Linked DNA regions of Homo sapiens: region 1 is linked to region 2. Evidence: fine-mapped expression QTL. A gene starts in region 2. The other region holds a variant in brackets. All regions are shown on one strand. Distances are from middle to middle. Region 1 has its middle 32 kb from the start of EVA1A. Region 2 holds the start of EVA1A (eva-1 homolog A, regulator of programmed cell death).

Evidence for each region. PIP is the estimated chance that this variant, and not a neighbour inherited with it, causes the effect.
Region 1: its variant is the best candidate, but not a certain one, in a credible set for the expression of EVA1A in fibroblasts (GENCORD, PIP 0.80).

Annotation. Positions count from the first base shown.
Region 1 is chr2:75,591,053-75,595,446 of GRCh38, forward strand. No RefSeq gene overlaps it. Among named protein-coding and RNA genes, the nearest start is that of EVA1A, 32 kb to the left of the region's middle. The variant C/T (reference allele first, on the strand shown) is at 2,513.
Region 2 is chr2:75,558,927-75,563,320 of GRCh38, forward strand. It overlaps EVA1A (eva-1 homolog A, regulator of programmed cell death), which reads right to left and starts at 2,013. Exons shown (of 4, transcript NM_001135032.2): 1 at 1,754-2,013. RefSeq lists a silencer at 1,963-2,022.

The DNA.
Region 1 (4,394 bases), 32 kb after region 2:
TGCTGCAATAAACGTATGTGTGCATGTGTCTTTATAGTAGAGTGCATACGAAGTACTTATAATGCAAACATCCACGCTGCTCAAGCTAATGTTTAGCAGTTCTGAATATCCTGAGGTTTCTATTCCAAAAGCAGCTACACAAAATTAAAGAATGATTCATATACATCTTTTTAAAAATTCTGGGATGCTCTTTTACAATGACTTCATTTCCAGGAAATATCTACAATTTCCACAAATCTGTATTTCCAATGAACTCAGGGCAGTTTGATAAAGAAAAATATGCCCAGTTTGAATCTAAATACTCAACTTCATTCAATAAATTACAGGTCTTTCTATTCCATCTCGGTGCTGAAAAAAAAATTACAGATCTTCTTTACTTTTCCCTCATAATTTCAAGGTTAATGTGTTCAGATGTTTTTTCACATCATTAAAGATATACAATTCTTTGAGTCATTGGGAGCCTGATGGATGGGGTCTCTCAGGGCATATTCATTTTCCAAAATCATTGATCTGAGAACAAAGTTAAGTAAACCTCCTCTGACTACATTAAATAAAATAAACTTCTATTTTCTGCTTCAAGTTATTGAAGTATTCCTTAAGCTAGCACTGATGAAAGTATAGTCCTGAAAAAAATTCAGTCTTGCTTACCTTATCTAACCATGTGAGAAAACAGATATAAACATTCACAGGAGAAAATTCGTGAATAGAAGATCAATGGAAGTTGGGGTCGCTCATATTCTTTGTTGATATAAATGTAGATGCCAGTTCTTTTAATTGGTGTGGCTCACCTGTGGCATGTAAACTAAGTTTTTCCAAGGTATTGTATATATTATCAGGGAGAAGGGGAGCCCACTAGAAATTACCCCAGGATCAAATAACACATTGACTGAGATATACAGTAAATATTTTTGATCCTTTCCCATTCTCATAGGCAGGATCAGAAAATAGAGGCCTTGGACCCCCTCATAGTAAGTAAAAGACAAAGGAGAAATTAAGGACTGCTCGCCAAGGCCCATAGCCACGAGCAGGATTTACCCTACCCCCATGCAGCAAGGTCTGGTCAAGGAGAAGTTGCAAGGGCACATATTTGTCATGGGCATGAGCAACTTACAAAAATACTGCCCCTGAGCCATAAGCCACAAGCCAAACCTGCTCTGTGTGATTTATGACTTGTTTGTTTCCACTTAACAGCCAGGTTTGTTAAAGGACAGTTTTGTTCCCAGACGAATCATCAGTGAATGAAGGCCGTGGAAGTGTTGCAACTTGAAAATTGACTCAGACATGAATATGCAAATTATATTCAGACACAAAATAGATAAAAGCAGCTTATAAGCAAGCCAGGATGGGGGCTTTAGGGAAATTCCAGTAGAAAATACAGTCAGAGATAAATTTGAAGATGGATTTTTTTTTACTTTGTCTGGTTTTCCTCCTTTTATTTACCCTCTTTAGCTTAATTAAATAATCAGTCCAGCCTAGATGGACTGATGAGAACTAGGCCTGGATGAGAATATTTACATTAATGAGGCAAACCCTCCAGTCTCCTTCTGTTCTTTCTTGTCCAAGAGAAGTGTTTAATATTTCAGAAGTATCTGACTGAATAGTGCAATATAAATCAGGTAGGATGACTTCTGAGCTTCTGGTTCAAGATGGCTGACAGATCACATGTGGCAACCTCTTTCTTCACCCCAAATTCTTAGAAAGGATAACTTACTCTGGAAAATAAGATGTACCCTCAGTGGACCAAAAATCGGGAAAAAAAATCACTAAAACATAGAACGTGTATAGAATTAGACTGAAGAAGAAAACCACAAGCAACATGCACACAGGAGAGGGCAAATAAAAAAGGTGAGATAACTCTACCGGGCATACCCTACCAGGAAGGAGCAGTTACTCACAGGACGACGGTATACTGGAATCACTAACAGGCTTATTATTTAAGGTCCCGCAGAAAGAGCCACCAGGTATATGGAATCTTCCTCTCCTTCCAACTTCCCACCTTCCCACCCTTCCTTCTCATACTTGCAGGGTTGTCAGTTGCCCAAGGCAATTAGGCAACAGAGCTGTTTGCCCTTAGAGATGAGCAATGAGTATGTGCATTTGGACAGAGAAGCAGTCTAACTATCAAAGTAACATAGCTGGCAGTCATTGGCCCTTCCCTAGGCTCACTACACACACAAAGTATAAGTGCAGCATCACGGAATGCCTCTCTCTCCTGCCTCTCACCCTATCCTATGTACACTTGTGAGTACATAATGAATGAATAGCAATTAACAGGAAAAAACAAATACAAAGAATCACTTGCAATCACAAATCATTAAACATGTGAGAAAAGCTAGCACCATTAAAAAGAGGCACTCTCAAACTCAATGAATAGATGAATCTGACTAATGGAAAACAGAGGTAATAAGCTGAGCAGAAAAAACAACCACAAGACAAAGTTAAAGGAGACATATTCAGAGAAAATATTTGCAATGAATATGAAAGGAATAGTATGCAGGATATAAAAAGAATT[C/T]CAATAAGTCAAAAGGAAAAAGCTGTCCCCACCATGTTAGAATACAGTTAGAGGACAGCCATCTGCAAATCAGGAAGACAGCCCTCATCAGAACCCAGCCATGCTGGCACTCTAATCTCAAACATCCCAGCCTCCAGAACAGTGAGAAATAAAAGTCTGTTATTTAAGTTAAGAAGAAGGAGACAGAGGAGGAGAATGAGGAGGAGACAAACAATGCAATACGAAAATAGACAAATTTTCTAAAGAAATAATTAATAGAAATAAAAATATAGAAACAGTTTAACCTCTCTACTAATTGAAGAAATGAAAATTGAAATGAAATATTTTTACCTTTGAGTTAAATGTTTCTTAATATAAAATGATGGCAAAAATAAGGGGAAATAGTTGTTACATAATGATTCAGACAATTTGGAGGGAGATTGGGAAATATCTGCTAAAATTAAAGTTTTAGATTCTTTGACAAAGCCATTTCATTGCTCTGTATCAATTCTAGAGAAACATTCACATCTGTACAGAGTCATGTGTATAAAAACATTTGTGGCCACATTATTGTAATAATAAAATCTTAGAAATAACCTTAGTGTCTGTGAGTAGGGTAATTATTAAATAATATGGCACATGCATATTATAGAAAATAAACAGACAGAATGAGTTTTCTCCATTTATACCAATATGGAAAACTCTCTAAGATATGTTAAGTGAATAAAGCCATTTTAGAACAGTACATACAATAAATTCCATTTGTGTGAAAAATTAAAACATAAAAATATTATAATTTCACAAGTACACATGTGCATGTAAATATGTATGTAAAAATTCGAAGGGATACACACATATAATTCACCCTGGAGAGGAAAATGAGAAGTGGCAAACGGGGATTTCAGCATTATTTGCAGTACTTGAATTATTTATAAACAGAATGTATACACATATTACTTGTACAAAAGGTAAAAACTTCTATATGTAGAAATAAAATTAAATGATTGATCTAATAGGGAGATAATTACCTATAAACTGAATAAAGAAAACTCATCACCCAGGATACCAACACAAGAAGCATTGGTGGCTATTTTTGCATAAAAGATGAAAGAAAGCAGCCATAAAAAAGTTTATGTTCTTCCCCCAAGGAAAAGAATGGCAATCAATGACAAGTCACAGCTGCATAGACGCAGCCCCATCTATGTGCTGACTCAGGAGGTAACGCAGTGCTTCCTCTCTTTGATTACCAGGGGTCTTGACTTCTGTACTAAAGTAAGAGAGAAAAATAATCTCTAAAAAACAGTTTTAATAAATATCACCTTTGCTGAGGGTAGGAAAACGACACTAATTTCACTGACAGACAGATTATCTCACACCACTGGCTTTTCAGAAAAATTGTGAAGCATGTCTGTAAGACAGCCCTTTAAAAAGACAATACTCTATGAAGTATTTTAAACACTGTTAACTAGAATTTTCTTTGTTAGTTTATGTCCCGGCATTCATAATTATGAGTTGCACATGATAAGCAAACAAAAGCCACTACCATTCAACTGATAGCATCATTTTCTCAACAGTTACTGGTTGTTCTGAGAATACTGACAGGCCCCTGACAAGTTTACTGGGTGAAAGAGTGCTAATTCCTGCATTAATAAGGAGAGACTTTTGTCATTAATAAGTCTTTGAAGTAGAAAAAAAAAAACCCAAATTGGTTAAGAGGCATGATCCTAATCCCAAAGCCACAAAAGAATGAGAAAGCTTCAGAGGGATAAGCCTACAATCTCTGCCTAGATCAATCAGGCTAGACTAGACTATGCTACCATAACAAACATCCCCCAAATCTCAGTGGCTTCAAACAATAAAAATCTCTTTATTGCTAATACTACACGTCCATCGTAAGTCAGCA
Region 2 (4,394 bases):
CAAGGGTGCTAAGGCAATATAGCCGCATGACCTGCTGTGGATTTGGCAACAGAATTCTGGCACTGGAATGGAGGGAAAGACTGGGACAGAGACTGGTATAATCAGCCAAACTAGAGCAGATAAAAGGATGAGAGCTGGAAATAATGGCACTCTTCATGAAGTGAAACATTAAACCTGGGCTTCTCAACCTCAGCACTATTAACATTTTAGGCTAGATAATTCTTAAATCTTGGAAGCGGAGTGGGGGAGGGGGGAGATGTCTTGTGCAATACAGGATGTGGCAGCATCCCTGGCCTCTACCCACCAGATGAATAAGATCCTCTTCTACTTACATGATGACAGCCAAATATGTCTCCAGACATTGCTGGATGTCACTTGGGAAGTAAAATCAAAATTCCGTTGAAAACCATTACTTTAAGCCCTAGCATCCCTGCTTTACAGATGAGGAAATCCAGCTACAGAAAGGTACAGGAAGGCCCCAGCCAGGATTCAAGCTGGTGGTCTCACTCCAGGGCCCGGGCTCTTAGCCACTGCGCTTGACTGCCTTTATGGAAAGGAGATTCAAGCCAGCCTTCTGAACAGTATTACACATTTCGTGACAGACTGGATGACAAGAAGGGGATGAATTAATAAGATTCAAAGGTGAAACCTCAGTGCTTGCCGCTGAACTCAGAGGACAGTAGATAATAAGTAGTTTGGGTTTGAATATAATCAAGGTATATTAGGTCAAAACGGAAAAAGCCTGGTCCCTTGTACTATGAGAAAGGAGGTGGGGGGGGGGCGGGGGAGTTGGGGGGACGGTTCTTGCTCAGACTAAAAAGAAGAATCTTCTGTAGGGCTGGACTTGAAGTGTATGTGTGGTATAGACCAGCTAGGACCCAAATCCTGGCTGGGCCCTTTCCTAGCTAGCTGTGTGGCCCCATCTCATTTTGCCCGTTTGTAAAATAGGGGTAAGAGTCCCTACACACAGGCTTGTTATGAGAACTCAGGCAGTTAATAAGAACAACATGGCAAGCCAGCACGATGTGGTTGGCACTCCTCTCCTTCCAGGACATCCTCATTTCCTCCATGTCCCAACGCGCTCCGTACTGCGTGCCAACACCTCCCCTTACCCCTCAATAGTAGGGGTGGGGACCCCCACGCAGACCTCCCAGATAGAGCAGCGTGGACTGTCTGCGCGCCCCTCTCCAAAAGCAAAGCGTCCCACTGGGACTTTAGGGGGCGCCAACAGCCTTTCACTCCCTGATGCACTCGGCTTTCGGGGTCCTGGGGGTCGCCAAATGCGCGCGGCGAGTTGGCTGCCTCCGAAACAAACCAGGTAAATAGTCCACGGTGCAGCACGTACATTTCTGGCAGGTCCGCCCCGCGCAGGCTTGGGATAGAAGCCAGTCAGGCTCAGCCCAGCTCCCAGAGGCACAGGAGAGAAGCGCTAGATTTGGGAACGACCTGCTTTCCGAAGCTGGGCTGCAGAGGCAGGGAGTTGAGAGTTGTTCTATCCAGAAAGAAGCAGGGGGGGCGAGAGAAGAAACAGGAAAGTGGGAGGAAGAGGAGGCAAAAAAGAAAGCGCTGGGAAGCAGAGTTCCCTGTGGGACCCAGCCTACAACACCTGGGCAGGGACTTGGGAACAAAGCAGCTGCTTCAGGTCAGAAGTGCTCTGGGTGTTTCCGAAAAGAGGGCGCTTCGGAGAAGCCGGAGCCCGCTGGGGATGCCGGGCGCCCCCAGAGTTCAGGGAGCGCTCTCGGGCACCTCTTACCTTTGCTGGGGCCCCGGCGCGCACTTCCGGGGACTGCGCTTGGGGCGCGCGGGGCCGAGCAGGGGGACCCGGAGCTGATCACTGAGGGGCGGACACGACAAAGCGCTGCCCGGGTCTTGGGCCGGCACCAGTACCTCGGAAAGGAATCCCGGCGGAGGGGCCGCCGGGGTCAGGGCTGGCCTGGGGATGTGGGGTCCCGGCCTGGGTGCTCACGGACGGCGGCGCCAAGCCCCGCAGAAGCTGCAGGAGCCCGAGTCAGTGGGAGGAAAAGGTTGTCTCATTTCCTTCGATCTCCCCCCTCCTCCACCCGCTTGGCTCCGGACCTGCCCTCCCTCTCCCCCGCCCCCTTCTGCAAGCCAGCGGCCCATGTGGGCGCCCGCAAGACGCGAAACCTGAACGGCTGCGGCGTGCGGCACCTCCCTCCGCGCCAAGTTAGTTCACGCTCCCAACTCCTGCCTGCCTCCCCGCGCTGCCGACTGTCCGCAGGACCGGGGAGGTTCCCCATCGGCAGTCCCCAACCTATCCCGGTCCTCCAGGCTTTCCCCCTGCTGGGACGAGCCCAGATTTGAAAGCAGACCTCCAAGCCCCTGCCAGCATCCATCCTCTCATTCCTGTCCCGTCGCCTGCTTTGAGCCTGTATTCAGCTACTCAACTCAGACAGGAAATAACCACTTACTTTGTTAAATTTGATCAACTTTTTTTTTTTTTTTTTTCTGAGTGGGAAGTTAAAGCCTGATGCATAATCTCGAAGGAATGTTCATTTTTATCGGAAGAAATGCAGCTGAGGCCTCTGTTTGGCCTTTCTCTTTCAGGGTTGGGGTTTTGTTTGTTAAAATCAACAAGTATTTTATTGAGAGTGATGGGCGCTCAGCTGGGGGCTGGAAACGCAGAAACAACTAGAGGGACACCCTGTTCCTATACAATCGTCATAGGGGAAGAGTGCAGGGAGAGAACAGGTCCCGGGTTGCGGTGGTCTCTTAAGAGATGGGTCACGGAGTGAAAGAGCCTTCTACAGAATCAAAATAAAAGCTTGGACAGAGGGAAGACGGAATAAGAAAGCCTTCAGGAGGCGGTCTAGCAAAGAGCACAGCCAGGGCAGTGAGTGATGGTGGGGAACAGGGAGGAAAATATTGTGCCAGTCCGTTAGGAAAGGAGAGGAGCTCCTAGAAGCAGTGTGATGGAACTGACAAGATCTGATGACCAAGGGCTTGAAAGGGAGAAGATGAGGAGAGGATGAAGGAGAGAGGTGACTCCCAGGCCTCTGGCTAGAGTAGCCAGTGACCACGTGGATGACTAGAATCCCAGAGTGCCTTCTGGAGCTGCTACTCCAAGTGTGGTCCAGAGACTGGCAGTACTAACACCACATGGAAGCTTTATGGAAATGAAAACCCTCGGGCCGCACTTGAACCACTGGATTAGTATCTGCAGCTTAACAAGATCCCTAGATGATTCAAATGTGCATTAGAATTTGGAAGCACTGGCTGCTAGACCACTGACTGTATATTATGCTGTATATTGGACTGATTGTATATTAGACTATGGAGCCCTGGGTGTCTATTAGAAACACCTGGGGAGCTTTAAAAACCAATAGGTGGCCCCAGCTCCACCCTCACAAATATTTCTGTAATTGTCTGGGGTGGAGCTCCCACATCAGTTTTTTTTCAGATGCTCTCAAGATGATCTCATACAGCCAGAGATGAGAGCCACTGTTTCAGACTTACTCAAGAGCTACTTCATTTTACCTTGAAATGCTGCTCTTCAAAAGGAAAACAACACCTATCTGTAGATGAAAACGTAAAGACAGGTTATTCCACTCTCATGCAGAGGCAACTGGTCTGGTAGAAAGGGCCCTTGTTTCCTAAACTAATCAGGGAACAAGGTTCTAGCCTCAGACAGCACTAAATTACTCTCTGAACTTGAGAAAGTACTCCCCTCTCCGACCTCTGTTTCCTTATCTGTAAAAAGAATACATACTTGCCTGACTCCAAATTCCACACTCTGGCATGCAAGGGCCATCATCAGAGCTCCCCCTAACTCTCCAGCTTTCCAGCAGGCATATGGAGAGGCTGTGATGAGAAGCGGGGTTTCCTGATGTAATACTACGTGTGTTAGCCAAGGGCACAGCCCTGTACGAATATCAGAGATCAGAGGTTTGTGTGCCGAGTACAGGAGCACACATACAATCAGTGCTCAGTAAATGTGTGTTGAATGAACTAATTAGTAAAGAAATAAATAGATAGGGCACAGGTGCCAATAGGTGAGCACAGACTTTCTATAGATGGGCCCTAATCTTGAGCCTACTTATTTGCCCCCAGGCTGGAGAAAGGACACCTGGAAGCACTCTGACCCAATCTACCTTTGGATTTAAAAATACTACCACTACTAAGAACTGCTAATATGTGTTGGTACTTAGTACGTGCCAGTCACTGGGCTGTGTCTCACTTATAAACATTGCCTCATTTTATTAAAATGAAGCAGATACTGTTGAACCCCCTACACTTCAACAGATTTCAGGAATCACAGGTATGGAGAGACTAGAGCTGCCATCTAGATTATCTACTTCTGGTTGTGCAGCAGGACAGAAGTGCATCCGTTGCTAGCCTGAGAGCCCCTCTTGGGGTTCCTACGGGTCATTCTCCAG